Regions from separate parts of the Homo sapiens genome. Here all the other regions are linked to region 3. Evidence: fine-mapped expression QTL. A gene starts in region 3. Each other region holds a variant in brackets. All regions are shown on one strand. Distances are from middle to middle. Region 1 overlaps CEP250 (centrosomal protein 250). Region 2 overlaps MMP24-AS1-EDEM2 (MMP24-AS1-EDEM2 readthrough). Region 3 holds the start of MMP24OS (MMP24 opposite strand). Region 4 overlaps MMP24-AS1-EDEM2 (MMP24-AS1-EDEM2 readthrough).

The links. PIP is the estimated chance that this variant, and not a neighbour inherited with it, causes the effect.
Region 1: its variant is fine-mapped to the expression of MMP24OS in whole blood (TOPMed, PIP above 0.99).
Region 2: its variant is fine-mapped to the expression of MMP24OS in whole blood (INTERVAL, PIP 0.95).
Region 4: its variant is fine-mapped to the expression of MMP24OS in lung (TOPMed, PIP above 0.99).

Annotation. Positions count from the first base shown.
Region 1 is chr20:35,491,635-35,498,171 of GRCh38, forward strand. It overlaps CEP250 (centrosomal protein 250), which reads left to right. Exons shown (of 35, transcript NM_007186.6): 23 at 1,795-1,938; 24 at 2,890-3,023; 25 at 4,943-5,081; 26 at 6,085-6,433. Among named protein-coding and RNA genes, the nearest start is that of CEP250-AS1, 3.9 kb to the left of the region's middle. The variant T/C (reference allele first, on the strand shown) is at 3,701.
Region 2 is chr20:35,252,967-35,260,774 of GRCh38, forward strand. All of the region lies in intron 2 of MMP24-AS1-EDEM2 (MMP24-AS1-EDEM2 readthrough), which reads right to left. MMP24 (matrix metallopeptidase 24) reads left to right here. Exons shown (of 9, transcript NM_006690.4): 4 at 1,484-1,788. Among named protein-coding and RNA genes, the nearest start is that of MMP24-AS1-EDEM2, 21 kb to the right of the region's middle. The variant A/C (reference allele first, on the strand shown) is at 4,169.
Region 3 is chr20:35,273,279-35,281,086 of GRCh38, forward strand. It overlaps MMP24OS (MMP24 opposite strand), which reads right to left and starts at 4,844. Exons shown (of 2, transcript NM_001355003.2): 1 at 4,731-4,844; 2 at 3,074-4,654. The coding sequence starts at 4,651. The coding sequence ends at 4,436. It overlaps MMP24-AS1-EDEM2 (MMP24-AS1-EDEM2 readthrough), which reads right to left and starts at 4,844. Exons shown (of 15, transcript NM_001355008.2): 1 at 4,768-4,844. MMP24 (matrix metallopeptidase 24) reads left to right here. Exons shown (of 9, transcript NM_006690.4): 9 at 994-3,720. The coding sequence ends at 1,331. It overlaps EIF6 (eukaryotic translation initiation factor 6), which reads right to left. Exons shown (of 7, transcript NM_002212.4): 4 at 7,376-7,551; 5 at 6,664-6,840; 6 at 6,288-6,469; 7 at 5,640-5,928. The coding sequence ends at 5,919. RefSeq lists enhancers at 421-490, 2,172-2,779, 2,780-3,387, 3,974-4,073, 4,194-4,363 and silencers at 4,494-4,713, 4,804-5,023.
Region 4 is chr20:35,208,373-35,216,180 of GRCh38, forward strand. The region is part of intron 4 of MMP24-AS1-EDEM2 (MMP24-AS1-EDEM2 readthrough); the gene reads right to left. It also overlaps a transcript of PROCR not described here. Among named protein-coding and RNA genes, the nearest start is that of MMP24, 14 kb to the right of the region's middle. RefSeq lists an enhancer at 7,688-7,808. The variant C/A (reference allele first, on the strand shown) is at 3,902.

The DNA.
Region 1 (6,537 bases), 220 kb after region 3:
GCAGGCCCCTGTAATCCCAGCACATTGGGAGGCTGAGGCGGACAGATCAGTTGAGGTCAGGAGTTCGAGACTAGCCTGGCCAACATGGTGAAACCTCATCTCTACAAAAATACAAAAATTAGCTGTGTGTGGTGGCATTTGCCTGTAATCCCAGCTGCTTGGGAGGCTGAAGCAGGAGAATAGCTTGAGCCCAGGAGGCGGAGGTTGCAGTGAGCCGAGGTCACGCCACTGCATTCCAGCCTTGGTGATAGAGCGAGTCTCAAAAAAAAAAAAAAAAAAAAAAAGGTGTGGCACAGCAGTCAGCATAACAGACATTGCCCCTGCTCTCAAGGAACTTACATTCCTGTGGCAGAAATGGATGACAAATGAGCAGACACAAAGTAAATGAGATTATTACAGTTTGTGATAAGTGCTGTAAAGGAAATAGAATGATACAACTGAGAGTGAGTCAAAGGAGGTTCACTTTGCACTTAGTGGTCAGGGAAGGCCTCACTGAGAAAGTAACATCTGAGCTGAGACTTGAAGGTTAGAAAGAAACCAGCTCCGTGATACAACATAGGTGAACCTTGAAAACATCAGGTTAAGTGGAAGAGCCATATATTTTATATGATATGCTTCCATTTATATGAAACACCAAGAATAGGCAACTCTATAGAGGCAGAAAACAGATTTATGGTGGGGAATGGGGTGGGGAATGGGGATTGACTGTGAATGGGCACGGGGTTTATTTTGGGATTGATGGAAATGTTCTAAGATTGATTGCGATGATAGTTGCACAACTCTGTGAATATCCTAAAACCCACTACACAGTATACGTTAAATGAGTGAATTGTATGGTATATGAGTTATATCTCAAGCCATTTGAAAAAAAAAATGCCTGCCATGTGAAGAACACTTTAGGCAGAGGAAACACCTGTCGCAAGGGCCCTGGGACACAGAAGAGGGCTTGGGAAGTTCAAGGACAAAAAGGAGGCAGTGTGGCTCCAGCTTGATAAACTCAGGGGCGAGTGGAGCGGTAGCCAGAAGCCCTGTGTCAGCCATTGTAGGAGCTTGGATTTTGTTCTAAGAGCAATGGGAAACTGTTGGGTGGTATGTATGTATGTATTTGTTTGAGACTGAGTCTCGCTCTGTCACCCAGGCTAGAGTGCGGTGGCACTATCTCAGCTCACTGCAACCTTCGCCTCCCAGGTTCAAGCAATTCTTGTGCCTCAGCCTCCCAAGTAGCTGGGATTACAGGTGCCCGCCACCATGCTTGGCTAATTTTTGTATTTTTAGTGGAGAAAGGGTTTCACCATGTTGGCCAGGGTCGTCTCAAACTTCTGACCTCAAGTGATCCACCCACCTTGGTTTCCCTAAGTGTTGGGATGATAGGCGTGAGCCACCGCGCCTGGGCAGTTGGATGGTATTTAAAAAGCAGGGGTGGGATATGATTTATTTATATATACGTATACATATGTATATACATATATGTATATGTATTCTCTACTCTCCTGAGTAGAGAATAGTGTGTGTGTGTTTTTAGGGGATCGTGGCATCAAGTGGAAGTAGGGATATGGTTAGGAGACTGTTTCCATGGTCTAGGTGAGAGACTATTACCAATTCATGGACTCTGACCAAGAAACCTGGGTGAGCCAGTGCACTTTGTGAGGGAGGAGAGGGACTAGGAAGTGAGAAGGTGAGGTGGAAACAATGTGGATTGCTGGCTCCTGCCTCAGCTTTTGCCACCCCACCAAAAAAACCAGTATTTCTATGACACAGATTTCCTCTACTCAATGATTTCTTATCCCTCTTCAGGAGACCACTGGGATACTACAGACCCAGCTCCAGGAGGCTCAACGGGAGCTGAAGGAGGCAGCCCGGCAGCACAGAGATGACCTTGCTGCCCTCCAAGAAGAGAGCAGCTCCCTGCTGCAGGATAAGATGGACCTGCAGAAGCAGGTCCCCTCCTCCTCCCCACCAAGTCCCATGGTCCTTCCCCAACACAGCCAGGCTTTCCCACTTCCTCTTGCAGGACAGGGAGAACCTTGGCCCTGCTGCCTGGTTTGGGAGGGTAGATGGGTGGGCCACAGTACTGAGTGGAAAATTAGAGGGTGCTCAGAGTTGAGCATGTGCCTGGCAGAGCCCTGGGATAGTAATCTCTTTCTCTGTAATGGTCACAGAGTTTTTGTTTTCCCTGGCTGTCTCAGTTTCAATTGTTCTTTCCGTCCTTGCCAAAAATCTAATATTTTTACATACTAGGTTGCTTCTCCTCAGAATCCTATATCAAATGATGTTCTGACTTTTCATTTTTAAAAAAGCAATCACAATACATGTTTTGCCTTTGGGAGTAGTTATAGTCAGCCTTTTTTTCCTTCTTTTTGGTGGGGGAGACAGGATTTCACTATGTCGCCCGGGCTGAAGTGCAGATCATAACTCACTGCAGTCTTGACTTCCCAAGCTCAAGCAATTCTCCCACCTCAGCCCCCTGAGTAGCTGGGACTACAGATGTGTGCCATCACACTGGCTAATTTTTAAATTTTTATAGAGACAGGGTCTCACTATGTTGCCCAGACTGATCTCGAACTCCTGGTCTCAAGCAGTCTGCTCGCCTTGGCCTCCCAAAGTGTTGAGATTACAGGTGTGAGCCACCGCACCCAGCCCAGCCAAGATTTTTATTTGTGCCTGCCTCTATGCAGCATATGTGAGGCTGGGAGGCAGATGACCAGGCCGAATTGTATTGAGGAAGGGGGTGGTTAAGAACAGTGTGTAGGAATTGGTAGAATCGCCAGAGCATTGGAAATGGCCACTGACTATGGTAAACCTCGAAGGACCCTGAAGCCCTAGGTGAGGAGCATCTTCCCACCGGCCCCCTGCCCTGCCATCTTGGTCTTCATGCCCTTAATTTTCCAGGTGGAGGACTTGAAGTCTCAGCTGGTGGCCCAGGATGACTCCCAGAGGCTGGTGGAGCAGGAGGTTCAGGAGAAGCTGAGAGAGACCCAGGAGTATAACCGAATTCAGAAGGAGCTGGAGAGAGAGAAAGCCAGGTAGGCTAGATAGGCCATGGAGGTGGCTTTTGTCTATCTGGCTGCCATGGTCACTGTGATATTGACAGTTGTTTGCTCAGGCCACCTTGCCTTTCATGTCTGCAACTCTGGGATGTACATGTAGCCATGTGGAGAGGACATGGTTCCTGTCTTCAAAGCTTGAACTTCATTTATTTAGTAAATATTTCGTGAACGCCTGTTATGCACCAGGCACCATGCTTGGGGATACAGTGATAAACAAGACTGTATGGTCCCTGCCCCAGTAGAATTTATAGTTTTGTGGGGAAGACATTAATCAAATAATAACTCAAATTATTACGTTATGACACATGGAGGAAACAGGGTGAGAGAGAGAAGAGACTTTAGAACCATTGTTAGGGAAGGCCTTTCTCAGGAAGTTGCATTTAAACTGAGCACTCAGCATGAAGTGGAGCTACCCATGTAAAAGGGTGAGGGGGAGTTCTATTCCGTAAGAGGAGAAATAATATGCAAAGGCCGTGAGGCAGATAAAAGTTTACAGTGTTAACTGAAAGAGTGGTTGGAGCCTGATTGGATTGTAATTGGAGCCTGGTGAATGAGGAGAGTGGCATGAGCTGGGCAGGTCCACAGCATTCAAGATTTGGTAGGCCACAGCAAGGAGTTCGTAGTTTGAGTTTCATAGGAAACCTCTGGAGAAT[T/C]TTAAGCAGGGAAATTGATACAATCCAACTTATGATGTATTTGAAGGGATTGTAATGCCATGAGACATCAGGAGTGAAAGAAGACCATTCAGAGTGAAGAGCAGCTTGTATTCTTAGTGCTGTGGGAATTTGAGAAGGGGATGGGCTGGGTGCTGTGTCCCACGACTGTAATCCCAGCACTTTGGGAGGCTGAGGTGGGCAGATCACTTGAGGTCAGGAATTCAAGACCAGCCTGGCCAACATGTCTACTAAAAATACAAAAAAAAATTAGCTGGGCATGGTGGTGGGTGCCTGTAATGCCAGCTACTTGGAAGGCTGAGGCAGGAGAATTGCTTGAACCAGGAGGTGGAGGTTGCAGTGAGCTGAGATCACACCACTGCACTCCAGCCTCGGTGACAGAACGAGACTCCATCTCAAAAAAAGCAAAAAACAACAAAAAAAAGACACAGTTTGAGAAGGGACACATTATTTTGGTGGTGAATCTAGAGGCAGGAAGACAAGTTAGGCTGGTACAGTTGTCCTGATGAGAGATCCTAAAGCTAAACCAAGGTAGGGTAGTGGGGAAGAGGAGGAGAGAAGAGAAGAGGTTTAAAGGATGTTAAGGGAGTTAGAATCAATTGTATATAATTATAGATTGGATGTAGGTAGGTTGAAGGGAGAACTCTGGAGTAGTCAAGGTTCTACGTTAGGACACTGTGTGGATGGAAGTGCCATTCACTGAGCTAGGGAACATAGTAGGAGATGATTGGGTGGACAGGGGAGGAGAGGAAAGGGATGGGGAAGATTTGGACATGTTGAACGTGAGGTACTAATATAAGGTATGTGTGAAATTTGCCAGAGAAGAATAAGGTTGATAGCTAGGCATGGTGGCGCATGCCTGCAATCCCAGCTACTCTGGAGGCTGAGGCACGAGAATCATTTGAACCCGGGAGGCAGAGGCTGCAGTGAGCCGAGATCGTGCCACTGTACCCCAGCCTGGGTAACAGAGCAAGACTCTGTCTCAATAAAAAAAAAACACAAAAAAACCTGTGAGGTTGAAATGGGGCATCATCTGCAGGAAGTACCTAGGAGCACTTATTATAGTAAGTGCTCAATAAATGATAGCTTTTATTGTTACATCATAATCATTATCATTACTATTTCTATTTTGATTATTAATGCTATGTTTAGAATACTCAGATGAGAAGGTAATTTTTCATTCCCTAAGAGAATGGCCCAGCACTCTGACCCCTCTCTTTTTAGCCTGACTCTCTCACTGATGGAAAAGGAACAGAGACTCCTTGTTTTACAAGAAGCTGACTCTATTCGACAACAAGAGCTGAGTGCCCTGCGCCAGGACATGCAGGAGGCCCAGGGAGAACAGAAAGAGCTCAGTGCTCAGGTACTTCCCACTCTGGTTATGAGCTCTGCATCCCTGGCAGAAGCCTGATTCTGAAGCGGTGGATTGATTGCTCTGAGTCCTCTCATGGAGAGGACCCATCTATTTTTCCTGATTACAGGATAGGCTGGTGCCTCAACACCCCTACAGGAGGGGGAAGCCAGGACTAGACAAGGCGGGGGCTTGGGAATCTGACCCAGAGATGGACATGGCTCCTGTGGGAAACCTGACAGCCCACAGCAAAGTGCACACGGGTGTAGCCCATGCAGGCCTGGTTCCAGCACACCGGCTTCAAAGTATGCTGGGTCTGGTTGGCAAGATGTAGCAGGGAGAATGAGCAACCAGAAATACTCCAGATCAGGCAGGCAGCAGCAAGACTTCCAGGGACTCAGTCTGCCCCCATCAGAACCCCAGATATTGTATACAGAGAAAAGATGGAACTAGGAGGGAAGGAATGGGGTGTAAGAGCCAGATGGTGGCTTGCAGGGGTTAAGGGCACACAGGTTTGGCTGTTCAATGGTCTTGAGTTTGAATGTAAGCTTTCTAATTGTGTGAACGTCAGCTTCTTCATCCATAAAACAAGGGTGAACAATTCTTGTTCCTAATTCCTATAACCATTATAGGAATATATAAAGTGTCAGGAACACAATAAGCATTCAATACATGGTAGCTATGTTATTGTGACTGGTCTTACTAGGCGCAGCGTCGAGGTTTCAGGGCAGAGTTCTGGTCATAGCAAGGAGCCAGCATATCTGCCCAGGAAGCCAGGGCTGAAGCCCATTAGCATAGCAGCCTGGGCCCATGTGTTCAGTAGTCGGCAGGCAGCCAGGTGTTAGATCTAGGGTAACACTCATTTCAGAGCCCCTCTACCTGCCTGAGAGCTGAGCTGAAATCCTCCCAGCCCTGATCAGAGTTTGTACAAGGATTGAGTGGGGTCTGGCCTGGGAAGGCCTGAGGAGAGGGTATCCGCTTCCTGCTTATATTATGTAAAATTCTTCCTTGACAGATGGAATTACTAAGGCAAGAGGTGAAGGAAAAGGAGGCTGACTTTCTGGCCCAGGAAGCACAGCTGCTGGAGGAGCTGGAGGCGTCTCATATCACGGAGCAGCAGCTGCGAGCCTCCTTGTGGGCCCAGGAAGCCAAGGCAGCCCAACTACAGCTGCGACTGCGCAGCACAGAGAGCCAGCTAGAAGCGCTGGCCGCAGAGCAGCAGCCCGGGAACCAGGCCCAGGCCCAGGCCCAGCTGGCCAGCCTCTACTCTGCCCTGCAGCAGGCCCTGGGGTCTGTTTGTGAGAGCAGGCCTGAGCTGAGTGGTGGGGGAGACTCTGCTCCTTCCGTCTGGGGCCTTGAGCCAGGTGAGACAGCCTCCCCAGAACTAGGTCCTTTGGGCCAAAGCCAGGCCTGGCTCCCAGGGGAAAGGGAGAGGAATGCTATTTGTTAGACCATATTGCTTCAGGGT
Region 2 (7,808 bases), 20 kb before region 3:
GCAGGCTCAGGTGGGGCTGGGGCAAGGGCCAGGCATGGGCAGGCTCAGGTGGGGCTGGGGCAAGGGCCAGGCATGGGCAGGCTCAGGTGGGGCTGGGGCAAGGGCCAGGCATGGGCAGGCTCAGGTGGGGCTGGGGCAAGGGCCAGGCATGGGCAGGCTCGGGTGGGTGCTGGCTGGCACTTCTCAAGGCTCTGCTGTCATCTCAGGTGGATCCCTTTGGTGCAGAGGCAAGATCTAAGACAGAGATCCTCAAGAGTTGAACTAAGGGCTCCCCTGCTGACAAGCACTCCCTACAGAACGGGACTTTTTTTTTTTTTTTTTTTTTTTCAGAAATCTGACAAGAGAAGGAAAGTTAGGGTTGAACTAAGGGCTCTTCTGCTGATAAGCTGTCCCTTCAGAACGGGATTTTTTTTTTCCAGAAATCTGACAAGAGAAGGAAACTTAAGAATCTAGGTTAGAAACTGAATAGACTCTTGGGTCTCTTGAAGGGGTAGAGTGGATCAAGAGAAAGAAGCACTGGGTTCTAACCCAACTCTGAGTAACTTCTATCACTAGACTTCTCTGGGCTTCAGTTTCCTTACGTGTGGAGTAGGTAGAATAATCCATGCCCCAGAGGGTCACAGGGCAGGGAACCCACAGGTAGTAACGTTGTTTTGTGAAGAACCAATGCAATATGAACACAGCGACGCTAAACAGCTAAACCTATAATGGATTAAATCAGATACCGGCCAGCTTCTAGGCAGACAAGCCAAAGATTGGTACCAAAGATTTTTTAAAGAGACTTTTCACTTAAACTCCTCTCTATTATTTGAATATTTTTATAACTTTTATAAATGAACATATTTCGTATTAGGGAAAAAAACTTAAAATTCAGAAAATGCTATCTACCAATTTCCTTTGGGTTTTTTTTTTTTTTTTTTGAGACAGAGTCTCACTCTTGTTACCCAGGCTGGAGTGCAGTGGTGCAATCTTGGCTCACTGCAACCTCTGCCTCCGGGTTCAAGCAATTATCCTGCTTCAGCCTCCCGAGTAGCTGGGATTACAGACTCACACCACCACGCCTGGCTAATTTTTGTACTTTTAGTAGAGACAGGGTTTCACCATGTTGGTCAGGCTGGTCTCGAACTCCTGACCTCATGTGGTCCGCCAGCCTCGGCCTCCCAAAGTGCTGGGATTACAGGCGTGAACCGCTGCGCCCAGCCCCAATTTACTTTTCTCAACAAACTAGAGTGGAATCCTTTATTCGACACAGCTTTGCTGGAGATCAAATGGAAAACACTGAGTAAAGCAAAGCCATCTGACTGAGGCAGGGTGGGGATCCAGAGCTCTGTTACTCAGCCTCTTCTTCAATCCCTGAGGCAGCTAAGCAGAATTCTAGGGTTCAAAATCAGATCACTGAGCCACATTGTCTCAGGTATCTATTTTAGCTCTGCTAGTCTCTGACTCTCTGATCTTGCCTAATGATCCTCCCCTCTCTCACCAGCATTCACAACTATACCCCAAAAGTGGGTGAGCTAGACACGCGGAAAGCTATTCGCCAGGCTTTCGATGTGTGGCAGAAGGTGACCCCACTGACCTTTGAAGAGGTGCCATACCATGAGATCAAAAGTGACCGGAAGGAGGCAGACATCATGATCTTTTTTGCTTCTGGTTTCCATGGCGACAGCTCCCCATTTGATGGAGAAGGGGGATTCCTGGCCCATGCCTACTTCCCTGGCCCAGGGATTGGAGGAGACACCCACTTTGACTCCGATGAGCCATGGACGCTAGGAAATGCCAACCATGACGGTAAGGCCATGAGGGGACAGGGGTCAGTCTTGGGCTGCTCAGTTGTTGGGAAAGAACTTGGAGGACATCCTAGATGAGTTTCCTGCTTTCTAGAGCCTCTTGTCCAAGAACTAAGACCGTAAGAGGGTGGGAACTGTGATTTCTGATAATATTCAACGTTCAATCCACCAGGGCCAGGGCCATGGAGATGAGTCAGATCACTTAGAAGATAGTCCGGTTGGCAGGAGAAAAGTAAGGTTAGGCCAGTAAGAAGATAAAGTAATGGACCAGAGGCTGAAGAAAAAGTTTAAAAGGGGCCAGGCACAATGGCTCACGCCTGTAATCCCAGTACTTTGGGAGGCCAAGGCAGGTGGATCACCTGAGGTCAGGAGTTCAAGACCAGCCTGGCCAACATGGTGAAACCCTGTCTCCACTAAAAATACAAAAATTATCTGGGCGTGGTGGCGGGTGCCTGTAATCCCAGCTACTCAGGAGGCTGAGGCATGAGAATCGCTTGAACCCAGAAGGCAGAGGTTGCAGTGAGCCGAGATCGCACCATTGTACTCCAGCCCAGGCGACAAGAGTGAAACTCCATCTCAAAAAAAAAAAAAGTTAAAAGGCATTAAAGCTGAAAGAGGGGTCTGAAAGTAGTAGGCTCTGGCCTGAATGATGAGGGCTCCAAAAGCCATCTTATGAATGACACGACTGGCTCTCTCCTTTGTCACCCTCACAGGTGAGTAGCAGGCCCTGAAATTATTCTGGCATCCTTGGATAATTTACCCTGCACCACTATGGTTCAATGAATATTTATGGAGGCAGAGTCAATACCGTGCAGCAATAGTAATGATACCCTGCAGGTTGCCAAAAAATTCATCATCAATATTTACTCACAAGGCACATGCTTAGTATGTAGGCAAGTGTACATTATTACACCCATTTTTAAGATGAAGAGTTGGGGCTCAACTGGCATAGCTGAAAGGTGACAATGCAGGTATCAAGCCCTGGTTCAACTACTGGCTATGTGATACCCTCGGTCTCCTCGTCTGCAAAGTGAGGGGCTGGATTAGGTGATCGCTAAGGGCCCTTCCAACTCTAATGAACATGATACAAAGTCTTGCAAAGACCAGGGGGAGCTGAATGTTTGAAAAAAATGGCATGATCTCTGTCCCCTGGCAGTCCAGAGTCAGTCTAGCAGGGGAGTTAGGTGTGCACGTAAGTAACCCTGTCATAGACAGACTCTACCCAAGGCTGTAGCAGAGGCACAAAGAAATATGTAGGAGTTTGGAGGAAAGAGGGACAGAGGAGTGTGGCTTTTGGATTATAAGAGATGATAATTAGTGGGTATGCTGGTGTTCTGAGGCCCGTGCCAAGTGCTTGCCACCCATTATGTGTGGAAACTATTATATCTATTAATACATTATAATGCATAATTAAATTTATGTATTAAGCAATATATAATGTTAAATTATTATTATAGGTAAATATTGCTATCTTCATTTTACAGATAGGTAAACTGAGATATAGAGAAACATTAAGTCACCTACCTAAGGTCCCACAGTTGGTGAATGGTGAAATAAGGCTTTGAATCTGGGCATTATGGCCCTGGAGCCCATGCTGTCAGCCATCATGCTAAGCTTCCATGGTTCTCAAACTGTAGGGCACAGCAGAATCACCTGGGAACCATTTTTAAGAATTCAGATTCCAGGCCAGGCACGGTGGATCACACCTGTAATCCCAGCACTTTGGGAGGCCGAGGCAGGTGGATCACCTGAGGTCGGGAGTTCAAGACCAGCCTGGCCAACATGGTGAAACCCATCTCTACGAAAAACACAAAAATTAGCCAGGCATGTTGGCAGGTGCCTGTAATCCTAGCTACTCTGGAGGCTGAGGCAGGAGAATCCCTTGAACCCGGGAGGCGGAGGTTACAGTGAGCCGAGATCATGCCACTGCACTCCAGCCTGGGCAACAGAGATTCCGTCTCAAAAAAAAAAAAAAAAAAAAAAAAAAGACTGCAGATTCCAGGACCCTAACCTCTTGTCATTCTGATTCTCTGGGTCCGGGGTAGGGCCTGGGAATCTGCAAGTGGTCTAATACATTCCTGGGGCCTTCTGATGCAGGTGTTCCATCACCATGAGAAACGCTATCTTAATACCTAGAGTTTTCCTACCTGGCCTGATCATAAGAACCAATGGGGGTTCTTGTTATAAACGGGGATTCCCAGGCCCTTCCCACAGAAATCCTGACTCTTGAGCTCAAACAAGCTTGGGAAACACCGAGCATCCTTTTTTCCTGCCCTGCGGCTGCTCCAGGCTGAGAGCAGACTCTCAAAGCTGGTTTGGTGTCTATAGTTGGGGCCATGTTTGGTGTCTATAGTTGGGGATCACCTCCTTGAGAACACTTT[A/C]TATCATCGCATGGATTAGGGATTGGCAGCTCTGGGGTTATCTGTCAAAGGCTGGACCAGGAGGTGGTTTGGCCAAGGCTCAGCCTAGGCAAAGTCATGAACCTGTTAAATTGTTCTTTGTCCTCTTCTTTCTTCAGATTTTTGTCCTCTTTCCTATTGAACTCCGTTTCCTTTGCCCTGGTATCTCTCCCGTATGTCCTGCATGTATTCCTGGCTGAGTACCTGTTCTTTATCTCATTCTTATTTTTGGATCGGTGTCAACGAATGGCTGTCTGTGCTAACAGATAAGATGTGAGGAGAAGAGAACTAATATTTTTGAGGCCCTGTTATGTGCCAGGCACTGTTAGCTGATAGGGTTTTAGTTATATTCCTGATAGAGGCAAATGAATGTCCAAAGAGTTGTCCAGAGGCAACGGGAAGACACTCCCACTCCTCTGCCCTCCCCTTCTGCCCAGCACTGGGGGTGTGCACTTCCCACACCTGCTCCTTGCTTTTGCAGAACTTGTTGGACCCAGCCCCCAAATCCCAAGAGCCGGTGGTATGTGTGGGAAGGACCGGGGACCTGTGGATGGGCACCATCCCAGCACCTCTCCCATCTGTCCAACCCTAACCTTCATGAAAGACTGCCAATTCTGATAGAAATTCCAAGATTGCTAATGTTTTCTTTGGATAAGAATCAGGACTTTGCTCTGCTCTGGAAAACCAAGCAGGAACTGTCCAGATGCAGCTCAGGACCACAGCAATCGACTCCTGAACTGGAATGCAGTGAAGGCAGGTTTTGGGTGAGAGGCAAGGAACCAAAATTTATTGAGCATCCATATATTATCTCGTTTAATTTCCACATAGACTCAGCAAAGGGGTGGAGTTTCCTGGGAACTTTTTGAACTTATTAGCTTACTTCTTTTTTCTAAACTCTCATTATGGAAAATTTCAAACTCACAAAAGTAGGAAGAATGCTTCTATGATCTCCCAGATACCCACCACCTGCCTCAGCAATTATCAACGTTGTGGCATTCCTATTTATCTACCTTTTTTTGGCTGATGTATTTTAAAGAAAATCTCAGGCATTCTAACATTTCACCTTTAAATACTTTAGTATATACCTCTAACAGATAAAGGCTAATTTTTAACATAAGCACACAATCATTATCAAGCCCAACAAAATTAACAATAATTTTTTAAAATCTAATACCCAGTTCGAGTTCACTTTCCCAAAGTACCTTGGAAATGTCTTTTACAGTTGTTTGCTTGAATCAGGATCCAAACAAGATCCACACACACATGGCTGACATGTCTCTTAAAGCCCTTTTTATTTAAAACACCCCCGTCCTACACACACGTTTCCCTCCATATATTTGTTGAAGAAACTGGGTCAGGTGTCCCGAGTATAATCATTTGGCGTGACTAGAATCAAGTTTACTTTTAATACGTCTCTCTTGCCCATAATTCCTGAATGTTGTTCATTAGATTTACAGGCTGACTAGATTCAAGTTCAATTTTTTTGGCAAGAATACTTCCTAGGTGGTGCTGGTACTTCCTATTCACCATATTAGCAAATACATATGATGCAGACTGTCCCACTTTTAGTGATGTTGAGGTCGAGCATTTGCTTCAGGTTGTGTCAGCCTGACCCAACCATTATACAATTCACCTGGAGAACTTAAAAAAAAAAAACAACAAAAAAGATTGCCTACGTCCCAAACCAAACCTCCTGAATCAGAATATCTTCCCCACCTCCTCCATGTGTTTAAAAGGCTCCCCGGGCCAGGTGCGATGGGAGCACTGGAGTAATCCCAGCACTTTGGGAGGCCGAGGGGGGGCAGATCACCTGAGGTCAGGAGTTCGAGACCAGCCTGGCCAACATGGCAAAACCCCGTCTCTACTAAAAATACAAAAATTAGCCGGGTGTGGTGGCACATGCCTGTAATCCCAGCTACTCGGGAGGCTGAGGCAGGAGAATGGCTTGAACCCGGGAGGCGGAGGTTCAAGTGAGCCGAGATTGCACCACTACACTCCAACCTGGGTGACAGAGTGAGATCCTGTCTCAAAAATAAAAAAGAAAGAAAATACTTTTTAAAAAAATAGGAAATTCACCCCTTTGGAAAGTGGCAGAGCCAGGTGTGACCCCAGGACTCCGCATTTTTAAGTCACCACAGGTGGTTCTGCTGCAGGTGGTCCGAGTATTTCCCTTGGTAAAATACGGTGCTTTTGGCGCTGTTCCATTCCGGGGGCTGTCACCTGGTTCTTCAACACAAAGCTTGTCCTCAAGGAACCCACAGTCCTGGGGCAGCGAGCATGTGCACTAGTGGCAATCACGTGGGGAGGAAGCGGTCAGTGCCATAAAGGCAGTTCAGGGAAACTGCTGGGAGGGCACAGCAGAAGGAGCACTCACTGCCAGCTGGGAAGTCATGGAAGGCTTCCTGGAAGACAGGCATGGAGCTGAACTTTGAAGGAATCAGGTTATTCCAGGGGAAGGGGCAGCACTGGCAGAAGAACAGAGGCAAAGGGAAATGCTATCACCTTTCGTGGGGCTGGGGGAGTTAATGAGATGGGAACGACCAAATATGGAGATCCTAAAAGAAAGAAATGAGGCAGAGACAAGGTCCACTTGAGTAGCCGAGTAGACTGCTGGGGACTTGCTCGGAGGCCCAGGGACTTACAGGAACACACCCTATCAGGGGTGCTGGTGCTCACACACAGCTCAACAGGACCCTGCTAATGAAGGGTAATACTTCTGTACCAGGAGCTGGTATCAGCGCATTACACACCCTGCCCCATGAATCTTCACCCACATCCCTATGACGAAGGTGCCATTGTTCCTTCTATCTTCCAGAGGAAGAATTTAAAATGTCACACTGCTAGGACATGGCAGAGCTGGGATTCAAAACCAGGCAGTCTGGCTCCCAGAGACTGCATTCCTGACCACTCTGCTTCCCTGCCGCTCACCCTCTTGAAGAGTGAAGACCCTAGCAGCCTCCTGCCCATGGAGCATGGGGTCCTCATAGCAGGCCTCTCCTCCTCATACCTCTGCCTTCACCTCACAAGCTCAGGGAGTCCTCCTGCCCCTGCCCTGCTCCCTCTGTCTCCCCCTCAGGGCTCTCTTGGGTTTCTGTGCAGCAGGATACTGGCTCCCTCGCTCTTCCCTTCCTTTTGGTTCCTGGACCCAAACCACAGGCCTCTTTCCTTTAAGGGGTCACTCCTGTTCTCTGCAGACCCAGAACAGGGGTTAAAAGAGCAAGAGACAAGGCTGCGGACAAAGGTTTTGAGTCTCCCACAGTGCTCAGAGCCGTGTTCCCTGGTTCCCAGCTGAGCTCCCTGTGGACAGCCCCTGGGGAAGAGCCTGCTCAGGAGACAGAGGCCCTGAACAGCTTGTCCCAGGTCATAGAATAGCCCAGGAGCACAGCCAGGACTGGACCCCAGGAAGCAGAGCTGCCTTCCGCTGGCTCTACCAGTTTGTTTGGGATGGAGCTCAGCGATGAGCTCACCCTTCCCTGCTGCCAGAGGGGCCAGGACCTGAGTAAGGAGCTGGGGGCGGCCTGGCCCTCTCATGCCAGCAGAAGGCCAGCCCCAGGCTTTTGGCCAACCTTGCACTGATCTTGCCCATCCCCCTTCCTTTCCGTTGCTCAAAGGTGGCTTCACA
Region 3 (7,808 bases):
CCAGCTACTTGGGAGGCTGAGGCCAGAGGATTGCTTAAGACCAGGAGTTTGAGGCTGCAGTGAGTTACAACTGCACCACTGTACTCCAGCCTAGGCAATGGAGTGAGACCTTGTCTTAAAAAAAAAAAAAAAGGAAATAAATGCTGGGAGAGAGCAACGAGCTAGAGGGGGCCGTGTTAGAGATGGCTGGGAAGGAGTCTCTGAGGAGGCTTCACTGCTGAGAAAGCCAATGGCCACAGCTGCTATTTGTTGGCTGTCTTGTATACCTGATGCTTTACGCACAAGATCTCCCTTTTTGGGGAGCCTCAGAGACAGGTGACATCAAGGACCGAGACCAATGAAAGCCCTAGCCACGGTGGGAAGCCAGCCAATGAGGACGGCCTAAGCAAGCTGCTTTGCCCACTGGCTGGGCCGCTCAGGCTGTTGCTCGAGCCCTGGGGTGGTTGCCCAGGGAGTGATTGGCAGGGCTGCCCAGCCTCTCTCCCAGAAGGCTCCCAAAGGTCCTGCATCTGTGTTGTGAAGTGATGTGTGCCAAGCCAAAAAAATCCATAATTGCAGAGAGGTCTTGCTGTCAACACAAGGTGAAATCTTGCTCCCTGCCTCCCTTGGCTCAAGCAGGAGCCAGGCTGAGGCTTAATGGAGCCCACATGAGCGGGGCAAGGGGGACCTGTGCGCACAGTGTGACAGAGCTGTGACCCAGGCTTGCGTGCAAGGGGTCCTGTCTGGGCAGCACAAAGTGAACCATGTCCCAGTTCTCCCTGAAGCCCCTCTGGTTTCCTAGCACCCGTAGGATGACAGGCGGACCACTCCAGGTCCCGGGTGCCCCCCTCTGCAGCTTCTTACTCCATGACTCAGCCAAGCACTGCACCCCAAACCTCCAGGTGTGCCCACCTTGCCTCCCTTGCCACAGTGCCTGTGCCCTCCTTTTCACACTGCCCCAGAGCAGGTGCCGGAAGTGTCTGGGAGTGGTGATGCTGGGCTGTATTTCTGCAGATTACACCTATTTCTACAAGGGCCGGGACTACTGGAAGTTTGACAACCAGAAACTGAGCGTGGAGCCAGGCTACCCGCGCAACATCCTGCGTGACTGGATGGGCTGCAACCAGAAGGAGGTGGAGCGGCGGAAGGAGCGGCGGCTGCCCCAGGACGACGTGGACATCATGGTGACCATCAACGATGTGCCGGGCTCCGTGAACGCCGTGGCCGTGGTCATCCCCTGCATCCTGTCCCTCTGCATCCTGGTGCTGGTCTACACCATCTTCCAGTTCAAGAACAAGACAGGCCCTCAGCCTGTCACCTACTATAAGCGGCCAGTCCAGGAATGGGTGTGAGCAGCCCAGAGCCCTCTCTATCCACTTGGTCTGGCCAGCCAGGCCCTTCCTCACCAGGGTCTGAGGGGCAGCTCTGGCCAGTGCTCACCAGGGCCAGCAGGGCCCTAGGCTGGGGTCGTACAGCTGAAGTGGTGGGTGCATTGGCCTAGGCTGAGCGTGGGGCAGGGAATTATGGGGGCTGTGCCCCAGGGTGGGTGTCTGGCACCCAGCTGCCAGCCTTCTGTCCTGGGCAAACTACTCCCTACTTAAGGGAATAGGCCAGGCTCCATCCGGAGGCAGGGACCATGCCAGGAGGAGCCCCTGTGGTCACGGCATCCTGTGGTGTCCATGAGGTACCACAGCTCCACTCCTGGCTGGAACCCAGCACCCTCTGTGGGAAGCCAGCACTAGCTCTCATCCCCCATCCGGGAGATACCACCAGTCCTGGTCCCCTTTTGCCAACACCTGCTGGTCAGATGTCCCCCTACCCCCACCCCACTGTCCTCCAAGGCTACAGGACCCCTGCTTCTGACACAGTGAGCAACAAGCCTGGGTTTCCCTGCTGGCAGACGGCAGATCCCTCAGGAAACCTGCTCCACTTGTCAGGGTCTCTTCGGAGACCCAGGATTTAGGGTCACATGCTGCAGGCAGGGCTGTGGCCCAGCTGGGTCTGACAAGGACCCAGCTGTCACATCGTGAATATTTAAATGTCCTGTCACTACTGTCCCATTTTGCAAAGGCTGCTTGAGGCTTTAGGTGAACTAGAGGTGACTGTCTTGGTGATGAGGCCAGCATAGCGGCCCTCCCCCAGGCGACAAGGACCAAGGTGCTGCTAAGGCCACTCTAGCGCCCAGACACCCCAGTAGCTGAGCTCTGCTCCTATGGCTACAGAGCTGGGGCAGAAGCTGACCCCATTTCTGGAGGAAGATCCGAGTTTGTGACCGTCCTCCACTCCCCTCTATTGTCACTGTCCCCAGCTTTGCTCCAGTCTGTCACTTGCAGCCTGGAGCTCAGCCTCACCAGTTAGGTGAGGCAGAGATGGCTGCAGGGCCAACACTGGCAGAGCCTGGGAGTCCTTCGGAAGGGGACCAGGGCGTCTGAAGTGCTCAGTGCCCCCACTACTCTGAGGCCGACTCCAGCTACTCTGAGGCCGACTCAATCTCTCGGCTGGAAGCAGTGTTTTCCCAGAGCTTGGCCCTTGCTGACCTCGCTCACTGGGCCCATCTTCCCACACTGCTCTTAGAAGGACACCCCTACCGGTAGCAGCCCCAAGCTGAGGGGGCTCCCTTTTTGACCTTCACTGGCCCGCCCTTCACTGTCTCCAGCAGGAGTTCCTAGGGCTTGGCCTGCCTTGCTCCACAGTACGGCGGAGGCAGCCCTGCTTGTCACTGAGGAGCCCTAGACAAGGCCAATGGGTTCATCAATGCCCACTGGCTCTCTGCCAAAGCCAAAAAGGTGTCAGGCAGTCTCCAGCGTGCTGGCCGGGTCTCGGATGCCACCCCTGCTCACTGAGCCTGCATGGGCCTTGCCCCCGACCCTGTGGTCTCTGGGATTGGGGTCGGCTTACCCTGTAGCACAGACAGGGACTCCTGCTGCCCTGGGAGCTGTCTCAAGCAAAATCTCTTGTCCCAGAGGTGCCCATGTGGGTCCGCTGTGTCCCCTGTCATCATCCTTGTTTTTTCTCATTTTGGCCAAGGGCAGGCTCCCTGGGACAGGCAGGGAACAACTGCGGAGATATTAGTGATTCATAGGTTTGTACAGTGTTTTATACTTTGCAAAGCACTTTATTAGCTCACACCTGTCCACTCACATGAAACTCGTGTTAGGCCCTGGGAGGCCGACGGTAACTCTCACCGTGCCCTCAGATGAAGCACAGAGAGGTTGTTACTTGCCCGGGCCATCCAGTGGGCTGGCTGGGTCTTGTGTCCCCATCTGTGGACCCCTCTAGGGTCTGAGATGAGATGAGAAGTGTCTCCTGTATCCACCTCTTCCTGGCCTCCCTTCCCCCACTTCCTGGTCCCTGTCCACTCCTCAGGTTGGTGCTCTCACTTCTTGAAAGCTCTAGGCACCCCCGCCTCCCGCCAGGCTCCCCATTGGCTCCTGGCAGGCCAGCTGAGAATGAACAGGAGATGGAGGCAGGCAGCCCAGGCTGCAGAGGTGAGGGATGTGGGGCCAGGCCCAGAGGGCTCAGCCTAGAGGCTTCCAATCTCAGATTCTCCTGCCTGTGGTCATCTGTTTGTCCATCACCCCAGGACAGGGCAGACAGAGGGGCAAAGCACTGGGGGCCCCAGAGCCTAGCTTCCCCTCAGCCTGGGGGACATCACAGCATTTCAGTGTCAGTCACATTTTAAACTGATCAGCCTTTGTATAATGTTTTTTAAATCATTTCTAAATAAAACAGAAATACAGAGTGTGTCATTTCCCTGGGATGAGGGAACAAAGATCAGGTTCCAAGAGTAACCTTAGGACGCTCTGGGAAGAGAACCGGGTCCTTTGGGGTGTCTGGGAGCTGCCCACCCATCTCCTCTGCCAGACCGGCGGTCAGATAGCCTCCCTCTACAACAGGCTGGCCCTGGGGGCCCAGGGTTATTGGGGTTCCAGGAACACAGCCTGATGATGCCTCCTTACGATCCAGGATGGAGAGCAGCCCCCCCAGGAGTATGGGGAGGGTCACTGTGGCACGGGCTTCTCCATGACCTGGGACATGACCTGGGACACATAGTCAAGAGCACGGTTATCAGCAATACAGATATTAATAAAAGGCAGACGAAGTCAGGAGGTCAGCAACTTTGCGGGCTTACCAGGAGGCCTGTCCTGCCTCTGGAAGCCAGCGACAGAGAGGGATGCCCCCGACCCAGCCAGCCGGAGAAAGGGATGGGGTGGTCACGAAGGTCTGAGCTGGGTCTGGGTGTAGGCTGGGAAGCAGGCTGGGGTGTAGACTGCGAAGGCGGCCCTGCCGGGACTTCTTTCCAGTCCCCGGCGACCTCTTCGAATTCTCTGCTATCTCTGGGGAGCCTCGGGTGGGAGGGGGTGTAAGAGACGCAGGGACGTGGGGAGAGGAGACAAGGCAGGCAAGAACCACAGGGGACGGCGGACAGACGGGCGACATCCTGCGGAGGACGCCGTCAGTACCAGGAAGTGCAGGCGATGAGGAAGCGCACGTCGTCCAGCGGCCCCCACGGGCTGGGCTCGGGCTGGGGCTGGGGCTGGGGCTGGGGCTGGGGCTGGGGCGGATGCCGGGGCTGTTCCGGGCCCTCCGGCGCCGCAGGCTGGGGCTGGGGCTGGGGCTGGGTTTGCGCAGGCTCCGGGGCGCCGCGGCCGCCGCTTAGCTGAGCCCCCATGGTCTGCAAGAAGAGAAGCCCTTTAAGGTCTGGGTCGCCGGGACACCCCGCTAGGGCCCCGCCCCGGCTCTGCCCTCACCTCTCGCAGCCAGACCCGCGGGTCTCCCGGAACCCACCTCGGCGTCGGGAGGAGCTGGCGCCGTGACGCCACCACCGCGTACCGACCTCACCCTCCGTGCGTTGGAGCGGAAAGAAGGGACTCGACCCTGTGCTTCGGGGCGGGGCTCCGCGACCGTCCCCCGCCAATCCCGCCCCAGCGCCTCAAGGCCCCGCCCCGCGCAAGGGGACGGAATGCACCCCAACAGCCTCCAAGACGCCCAGGCCAGGAGGACGCTGGGAACCCGCTGCCCCGCCCCACGCCCACCCAGGAAAAGACCTGCAACCTCCATCCACCTTAGTCAAAGAATGCCCCGAAGCCAGATGCCCCAGAGCTCTCACAGGGGACTTGCCCAGCTCAGGGGAAAATCGGAACGGACTCTCTGCCTTTCAAGGCCAGAGAAGACCGGCGCAGAAGTCGGGTGAAAACTGTGAGAACTAGACCGGGCGCCGTGGCTCACGCCTGTAATCCCAACACTTTGGGAGGCCGAGGCGGTGGGTCGCTTGAGTTCAGGAGTATAAACCAGCCTGGGCAACACAGTGACTTCGTTTCTACAAAAAAATAAACGAGGCGAGAGGATCGCTTGAGCCCAACAGGTCAAGGCTACAGTGAGCCATCCTTGCGTCACAACACTCCAGCCTGGGTGACAGAGGGAGACACTGCCTCAAAAAGAAAAAAGAAAAAAGGAGAACTGTAGTGGAGAGTGTTTCTTGCCCCAGGATGAAGCCTCACATCCTGATGGTAGAGGAGAAGGGAATGGCGTGTGTGGAGGTGGTGAACTGGGTTGGGTGTGTGTTGTGTTCATCCCACCCTATCTTCCCAGAATGCTGGAACAACTGGAGAGTGCAGGGATTGTACACAGGCTGAGGGCCCCAAACATCACATTCAGAATGGCCCGGAGGGAACTGCACTTTAATGGGGTGGCACAGGACAGCAGAACCCTCAGCCAGCAGCCACAGGGCCTGCCAGCCAGCACAACAGAGCAGGTTTTTGCAGTAATGATAGATCCAGGCGATAAGCACAGGTGGAAAAGGGTTGGGTGCCCAGCCCCTCAGTCCCAGTGAGCTCTCTGCCACCTCCCTGCCAGCATCCGGTACAGATTGGGCGGAATGTGGAGAAGGTTGGCCACAGTCCAGAGCCAGGAGCCCATGGAACAACTTGGAAGGTGACTCAGGTGAGGCTGAAGAGAAAGGAAAGCGCACGGTCAGTAGCTGTTTCACAGAGCCCACCTCACTCTCAAGTGAGGTGCCTGCCTCAGCCCTCATCCCGGGACCAGCTCTGACAAGCTGCTCAAGCAGCTACTGCTCTAGTATCCTAGCCCTGAAAAACCACAAAGATGAGGATTAGCAGATGCTCAAGAAATATTTTTTGAATATGCTGGCTCTTATCTGCTCAGCAGTGTACAGATATGCTCTCACACTCGAGAAGCTACCAGAACAAACTGGTAGGCTCCCATTCTAGATGACATCTTTTCCCCATACTCTCAAAATGCAAGTTAACCCCCAACCCTGAGCAGAAGAAAGGAGAGGCCCCAGGTACCTGTCAATGAGGGAATCCCGCATGCTGGTGGCAATGGTGCTAGGCTGGGCTTCATTCAGCTTGAAGACACTCTCCACCACTGACAGCTCTGTGCTGGTTGTGTCCAGGCCACAGAAGGCACACCAGTCATTCACCACCATCCCAGCAGCAATCACCTCACTGCCTCGGTTCACAGTCCCCGCCTGCCAAGGGATGGGCTCAATGTGAGTCACGGCACCAAATTCTCTCCCTCCTCAATGAAGACTCTCCCCAAACCCTGCTCCTCCCTGACCTGCAGCCCCAGTCCCAAACTGTGGCAGGTAATGACCCAGACTCCCAAACACTAGGCAAAAGGATCTGCCTCGGGAGACGGGGTTCAGAGGACAGGAATGCTTACCACAAGGGGGACTTGAAGAAGAGAGGACAGCTCATCCTGGTCTTCAATTGAAGTCTTGGGATGCACCAGCCCTCCCTGATTGCTGAAGACACAGTAGCTTCCTACTAGCACCTGGTCGGCCACTGTCTGTCTGAAGACTTCCACCTTGAGCACATCTGCCAGAATTTCTTCTGTCTCCTGTCAATCAAAGATATTGTGTTCAGGGCTCAGAACTTACAGCCCCAGAACCAAGGTTCTCCATGCCCAGAAGCATCCAGGCCTTGGCTCCCTGAGCCCCTCATTTCTCCTCTGTACCTCATATGAAAGCCTCACCCAGAGAAAGGAGGAAGTACAGCTTAGAGCAGAGTCAAGGGCAGCTGTGAAGCCCCTAATATTCATGCATGCCCTGAACAGCTGGAGGCTGGTCTCAATATCACTTCTTTCCCCTCTCACCCACAGTCAAAAGTTCAACAGTCAATCACCTATCCTGGCCCAGGATGCAGGACTGGATGGTTCAATCTCCCCAATCATGAAGGATTCATACCCTCCCCAGCTTCTTTCTGACACTTGATAAGGCCTCTGTTATCACTATTCCAATGAGTACCTGAAACTCAAGAGCCCATATAGAAAAACCACAGGAGAGACCCCTAATTGCTGCCTGTTGGGAAAGAACAGTGGCTAACCACTGACTAGGATGGCCCTGTGACTCTTGGGTCAAGTTGGGCTGCCTCACCCTGTCCAAGTCTGGGTGGACCAAGGCCACGTAGTCATTGCAGGTGGTGACATTGCCCAAGGCTGAGAGCCGCTCCTCCACCCGCCTAATCTGCACTGTGTCTGGGAGGCTGTTGCGAATGTGTTGCAGCTCCTGGTCGGTGGTATTGTTGGGTACCAGGAGACCGTGCCTGTTCCCTGGAGAAACCCAAATTAGAGGGTGAATACACAAGATGCCTGCTGAGCCCTAGGGGCTGAGGATACCACTCAGCCCAGCCCAATCAGCTTTCCCAGGAAAGCTTTAGGCCCAGAGCCCAGCCCTCCAACCCACTGATCTGGAAAACACCCAGGGCAGGCCAGAGACCACCCAGGAATCCCAATAAATCCTGCCTACTTCACCATCACCAACTGGGAGGGAAGCTGAGCTCTTGGCATTAGCTGTATATTTTGCTACT
Region 4 (7,808 bases), 65 kb before region 3:
TGACTCTAATCACATTGTCTCCTGTTTGTCCTGCAGTGAAGCCCTTTTACATCTGCTTATCTCTTTTGATCCAAGGGAAGGAGACTTAACCCTGACTTCCAGAGAAGGAAATAGTCTCAGAAAGGTTAAGTCATTTATCTGAAGTTGCCCTTTTAATACTGAGTACTGGACTCTCTCAGTATCCGCGTACTCTGCTGCCCCCTACCGTGAACATAGCAATAGGTTTTAAATCACAAAAACACACAGCAGAACACTACACAACACTGGAAAGACTACGACACTATAAATAGTGCTTACATTTGTTCATTTAGCAAATATTCAGCTGGACGTGGTGGCTCACGCCTGTAATCCCAGCACTTTGGGAGGCCGAGGCAGGTGGATCACTTGAGGCCAGGAGTTCAAGACCAGCCTGGCCAACATGGTGAAACCCCACCTCTAAAAATACTAAAATTAGCCGGGCATGGTGGCACGCACCTGTAATACCAGCTACTCGGGAGGCTGAGGCAGGAGAATTGCTTGAATCCAGGAGGCGGAGGCTGTAGTGAGCCGAGATCACACCACTGCACTCCAGCCTGGGTGATACAGCAAGACTCCATCCCCAAAAAATAAATAAACAAATATTAATTGAGAGCCTACTATATGCCAGAAATAAGCAGGTATTGTCCTTGTGTTCATGGAGCTTATGGTGTAGAGGGGGAGACAGAATTACACAAAATAATTACTTAATTACAGTTTGAATAAATACTATGAAGTACAAGGTGCTATATGAGGGTATAGAATAAGGGTATGTAGCCTGGTCTGGAGGCTTAGGGAAATCTTACATGAAGTAGAATTCATAGGAATAAATTATTGGTTGGCTATGGGGGAGGTTAAAGAGACATCAAGAATGCCTTCCAGGTCTCTGGCATGAACAACTGGGCAGATAGAGCACTGTTACTAAGCAGGGGAAGCCTAGAGGAGGAAGACATTATGAATGGAAAGAATATGAACTTGGCTTTGGCTTTTTGCAGTTCGGGAATCCCACGAGACATTAAGGTATAGATGTGGAATAAGCAATCAGATTCAGGAGTTTGGGAGCAAGGTCTATGCTAGAAATAGAAAGTTGGGAGTTGTTGGGATACAGATTATATTTGAAACTGTGGTCATGGATGACATTTCTTAGAAAATAATAGAAAGAGTAGAAGGCTTATAACTTCCCTGAGAAACTCCAGAATTTAAAAGGTCAACTGGAAGAGATGGAGCTAGCAAAAACTTAGGACAAGGGGCCAAGGAGGGGAAAATCAGGAATGTGCAATGATGCCAAAGTCAGGGGAAGTGTATTTCAAAAAGAAGACTGGTCAACCATGGTGGTAATTACAAAGAAATCAAGTGCAATGACTTTCTTGGTCTACGATGATTTTTTTGGTCTGCCTAGTGAAACAGATTCAGTTTCAGAGGACTAGAGGTGGAGAAGACTAGGCCACTACCTCTTAGAAAACCTCCTAAAGGCCACCATAGCCTATGGTCTTGAACCAGTGGTCTTCATAGTCTTTTGCTCACATACCACTTAAAATAATTTTGATAAATAATGTGAGCTGGGCACAGCGGCTCAAGCCTGTAATCCAAATGTTTTGGGAGGCTGAGTCTGGAGGATCACTGGACCCCAGGAGTTTGAGACCAACCTGGGCAACATAGAGAAACTCCATCTCTACAAAAATTAAAAAATTAGCCAGGTGTGGTGGTGTGTGTCTGTAGTCCTAGCTATTTGGGAGGCTGAGGTGGGAGAATTGCTTGAGCCCAGGAGTTCAAGGCTGCAGTGAGCTATAATCATGCCACTATACTTCTACCTGGGCAACAGAGCAAGACCCTATCTCTAAGAAAATAAATAAATAAAATTTTTAAAAAACATTAGGCCAAGTGCAGTGACTCATACCTGTAATATCAACACTTTGGGAGGCCAAGATGGGAGAACTGTTTGAGCTTAGGAATTGAGGACCAGCCTGGGCAATATAGTATGACCTCATCTCTATGAAAAATTTTTAAAAATTAGGTGGGTGTGGTGGCACACGCCTGTAGTCTCAGCTACTTGGGAGGCTGAGGCGGGAGGATCACTTGAACTCAGGAGATTGAGGCTGCAGTAAGCTACGGTTGCGCCACTGCACTCCAGCCTGGGCAACAGAGCGAGACCCTGTCTCAAAACAAACAAACAAAAATATAGACATATTTTTAAAAGATAATAGAAGGCTATTTTCTGAATCTTGTATTTTTAACTGTCCCCAGTTCTGAACTTTTTTTTAATTGCCCCGTGCAATGTATCATTCAGGGTGGGTCAGATATATGCCTTTCTTTCTTTTCTTTTTTCCATTTTTTTTTTTTTCTCTGAGATGGAGTCTCACTCTTGCCCAGGCTAGAGAGCAATGGTGTGATCTCGGCTCACTGCAACCTCCACCTCCAGGGTTCAAGCGATTCTCCTGCCTCAGCCTCCCCAGTAGCTGCGATTACTGGCACGTGCCACTGTGCCTGACTAATTTTTGTATTTTTAGTAGAGACAGGGTTTCACCATGTTGGCCAGGCTGGTCTTGAAGTCCTGACCTCAGGTGATCCACTCACCTCTGCCTCCCAAAGTGCTGGGATTACAGGCGTGAGCCACCATGCCTGGCCTTTCTTATGAAGACTAGCAGAACTACAATTATGAAGAAAAAGTCGGCTTGGAGCCTCAACCCCAGGAACTTTCTCAGGTGGAGTACATCTGGAAGTTGAGGATCTGGAAATGAATTTCCTTAAATATATCCATGCATGAGTACCGCTTACCAAGCCTTCATTTACTTTACGGCTATTGCATACCCCATTTGAAAACCAGTGTTGCAAAGGACTGGGGGCAATCTGAAACTACTGGGTTCCTGGAACCTGGCACTGATTGATGGGGCCAGTGGGCCCTAATGAGATTGCACCTCCATTTTAAAAGCGTGAAAGGTATAAGGAGATTCAGAGATAGGTGTAAATGGCTTGCGGGAGCCTCCAAAATTTTCAGGTCCAGGTACCTCCCACCCCTTCAAGGGACTGTCTGATACTATTCTATGGCTCCTGGAATGAAGAACCAGTCATCAGGACCTGCTGGCCTCTATTAAATTAAGAGTCCAGTCAGATTTAACAACCTGAAGATGAGGTGTAACTGTGAAGCAATATATGGCTGATTTTTTAACACACCCATCCAAATACATCCACTCCAGCTGATTCATTCTCTCAACTCCCATGTGCTAGGTAATGTATGAGGTGCCAGAGTTACCCAAAAAACAAACAAAGCACAATCCATAGGCCAAGTCCTGCAGAAACTCTAGGAGAGAAACTTTTAAAGAAATAATTATAAAAACACTGTGATCGGCTGGGCGTGGTGGCTCACGCCTGTAATATCAGCACTTTGGAAGGCTGAGGCAGGAGGATCACCCGAGATCAGGAGTTTGAGACCAGCCTGGCCAACATGGTGAAACACCATCTCTACTAAAAATATAAAAAAATTAGCTGGGTGTGGTGGCTCACAACTGTAATCCCAGCTACTTGGGAGACTGAGAGCAGGAGAATTGCTTGAACCTAGGAGGCAGAGGTTGTAGTGAGCCAAGATCATGCCACTGCACTCCAGCCTGGGTTACAAGAGTGAAACTCTGTCTCAAGAAAAAAAAAAACAAACACTGTGATAAAGAGTTAATAAAACTATGTGCAAGAGCTAGGGGAGTACTGAAGAAAGAGTGATTTGAGTAAGAACTTTGTAAGACTTTGAGTAAGAACTTTTTAAGACTTTGGGAAAACTTCCCAAAGGAGGTCACATTAGAGTTATTTATTGGCAGGCGTGTAGTACATCATAGAGAAAAAGAGATGGCAGTGGAAGGATGTTCCAGGCAGAGGATGCAGCATGTCACATGGGCAG[C/A]CAGTGTCCAAGTGACACTCAAGGGGCAAGACCTGCTTCATGGACTTGTGACCTCTGTAGTCACACAGGGCCCCCCTCTTAGAAGGGCCCTCACGCTTGTTTTAATGTTCTGCTGTCATCATTTTGAAATTCTTATTTTTTTTTTAACAAGGAGACTTGCATTTTCATTTTTGCACTGGGCCCTGCAAATTACGTAGCAGGTCCTGCAAGAGGGCAAGATGAAGGCAGGGAGACCTGCTGGGAAGTTATTACTGCGGTCCAAGTAAGAGATAATGAAGGGGCTAAATCAAGGTCTTGTCGTAACAGTAATACACAGCCACACCATTTTCAACTTCTTCCCAGTGTATTCCTCAGTTTAGATGTAGCAATTTCCCCAACTGGAAAGTACTTAGGTTGATTTTGGTGTTTTGTAATTACAAAGAATGAGGCAATTGAATAATTTGCTACAAATAATTTTGTGTTTGCACCTATGCAAGGATATCTATCTAGGATAAATTCTCAGAATTAGAATTGATGGGTCAAAGGTATGCTCATTTTCAAGGTTGATAGGCATTGCCAGTTGGTGACCTGAAGAGAGTAAACCAATTTGTATCTCTTCCAACAGTATGGAGGAGTATCTGTTTTATCATGCCCTCTTTAACACTCTGTAGTATCCAACCTTTTGGTATTTGCAGTCTGATAATGTTAAGAAAGCAGTGGCTGATTGTCTTAATTTGCCTTTCTTTAATTACAAACATGGTTGGTCATTTAAAAAATTATTATAGGAGTCTGTTCAGGCCAGGCACAGTGGCTCACGCCCATAATCCCAGCACTTTGGGAGGCCGAGGCAGATGGATCACTTGAGGCCAAGAGTTCCAGATCAGCCTGGCCAACACGGCAAAACCGCGTCTCTACAAAAAACACAAAAAAATTAGTCAGGTATGGTGGCATGTGCCTGTAGTCCCAGCTACTTGGGAGGCTGAGACATGAGAATCGCTTGAACCAAGGAAGCAGAGGTTGCAGTGAGTTAAGATCGTGCCACTGCACTCCATCCTGGGTAACGGAGCGAGACTGTCTCAAAAAAAAAAAAGAGTCCATTTATATTTCTGTTTGCATGAAGCCCATTTAGTCCTTCGCCATTATTGAATTGGGTCATAGGTCTTTTTCTTATTGGTTTATAACAGCTGTTTTACGTTAAAAAAATAATAATAAATATTTTACCTAGTTTATAGTTTGTTGCTTTATTTCTGCTTTTTTTTTGGCCATGCAGATGAAGGCCTGAATTTTTGAAACCTAAGTGAACTGTTACTGCTTTCACTGTATACCAGTATTTTGCAATATAAGCCCTCTTTTCAGGGAGTGGCCTTTAGAGACTATTACACTTATTTTTTTAGAAGCTCAGCTTGTTCATTTGGAGAACATACAATATTAAAGGGAAAAAATGCTCAGCTTGTACTTATTTTTTGAAGAGATAATATATCCACATGATTAAAAAGTCAAAAGATACAAAAAGGTATACAGTGAGAAAAATCTCCTTCCAGCCAGGCATGGTGGCTCCCACCTGTAATCCCAGCACTTTTGGGAGGCCAAGGCAGGCGGATCACATGAGGCCAGGAGTTCGAGACCAGCCTGCCCAACATGGTGAAACACTGTCTCTACTAAAAATATAAAAAATAGCTGGGCTTTGTGGTGTTTGCCTGTAGTTCTAGCTACTTCGGAGGCTGAGGCAAGAGAATTGCTCCAACCCAGGAGGCAGAGGTTTCGGTGAGCCGAGACTGTGCCACTGCACTCCAGCCTGGGTAACAGAGCGTGACTCCATCTCAAAAAAATAAAATAAAATAATTAAAAAAAATTAAAAAATAAAAATAAAAATTGCCTTCCCACCCTGTCCTCAAACCACTTAAGCTTCCCTCCAGGAAGTAAGCACTATTATCAGTTCCTTGGGTATCTGTCCCTATTTTATGTGTAAATGAGCAAGTGCATGCACACACATGTATTCTTTTTTCCGATTATTACACAAATAGTAGCCTACAATATCCAGGATTCTGCACCTTTGCCTTTTTTTTACCACTTAACATTACATTTTGGAAATAATGTCCTAATTATTCATAAATTCGTAAGTACTTCCTCATTTTAAAAAATGGCTGCATTGGGCCGGGCGCGGTGGCTCACGCCTGTAATCCCAGCACTTTGGGAGTCCAAGGCGGGTGGATCACAAGGTCAGGAGATCGAGACCATCCTGGCTATCACGGTGAAACCCTGCCTCTACTAAAAAAATACAAAAAAATTAGCTAGGCGTGGTGGTGGGCGCCTGTAATCCCAGCTACTCGGGAGGCTGAGGCAGGAGAATTGCTTGAACCCAGGAGGTGGAGGTTGCAGTGAGCCGAGATCGCGCCACTGCACTCCAGCCTGGGCGACAGAGCGAAACTCCATCTCAAAAAAAAAAAAAAAAAATTACAAAAGGCTGCATAGTGTCCCATTGTATGCATTGGTTTGAATATGCTTTTAAGGGAGAAACCTGAGTAAGAAATACTCTCAAGTCATTTGGGGCTGGACATTGAGACTGAGTCGGGGGATTGGACTGGGACCTTCTCTAGATCCTGAACAATCAGACCTTTTCCTTCCTCCAGGCCTTTACCTCCCATTTTCTTTTTCTTTTTTTTTTTTTTTTTGAGATGGAGTCTCACTCTGTAGCCCAGGCTGAAGTGCAGTGGCACCATCTCAGCTCACTGCAACCTCTGTCTCCTGGGTTCAAGAGATTCTCCTGCCTCGGCCTCCTGAGTAGCTGGGATTACAGGCACGCGCCACCAAGCCAGGCTAATTTTTTTGTGTTTTTAGTAGAAACGGGGTTTCACCCATGTTGGTCAGGCTGGTCTCAAACTCCTGACCTCAAGTGATCCACCCGCCTCAGCCTCCCAAAGGTGCTGGGATTACGGGCGTGAGCCACAGCGCCCGGCCTTTTACCCTCCATTTTCTGCCAATTAAAACTTCACACAGTCTTCCATTGCTTGTAACTTTTGAACACGTGTGTGGTAATGTTCTGTGTATATTGCATATAAAACTATTAGCTTTTAAAATATTACCAGTTTATATAGACTCATCTCAAATGCTACTTCCTTTTGGAAACCTTCCTTGATCTCCCTGATATCCCCAGCCAGAGTGACCTCACTCCCCTCTGAAATCCTATAGAATGGTGTAATGTTTTGTGGTTATTTGTCACGCCTTTTATGTGCACAAGTCTTATCTTTTTTTTTTTTTTAACCTGAAGACGGCCTCACTTGCCCCAGTACCTTCCACAGAGTGGCTTCTGAGTAATGTTTACAGAATTTTTGAGGTAATTAATGAATGAACAAAGGCACCAAGGGTTAAGGACATGAATTTAGTGTCAGACACTTGGGTTCTACTCCTGGTTTTGCTGTTTTTTAGGTGTGTCGTGGGGTAGGTCACTTCTCTCACCCTTTCCTTAGAATCCACTTCACAGGACAGTGGTGAGGATTAAGTGATTTGATGTAGGTAAATTGCTTTTCATTGACTGTTAGCTGCTGAAATAGGAATTCAGAGGAAGGAGGAGAGAGGTCAAGGAGACTTCCTAAGCTGGACTGTGCTCTCCAGCCACCCTCTCATTTATATTTCCTTTCAGATCTCTACTAAGAATGTCACTCTGGCCGGGCGCAGTGGCTCACTCCTGTAATCCCAGCACTTTGGGAGGCCGAGGCAGGAGGATCACTTGAGGTTGGGAGTTCGAGACCAGCATGACCAACATGGAAAAACCCCGTCTCTACTAAAAATACAAAATTAGCCAGGCGTGGTGGTGCATGTCTGTAATCCCAGCTACTCGGGAGGCTGAGGCAGGAGAATCACTTGAACCCGGGAGGCAGGGGTTGCGGTGAGCCGAGATCACACCATTGCACTCCAGCCTGGGCTACAA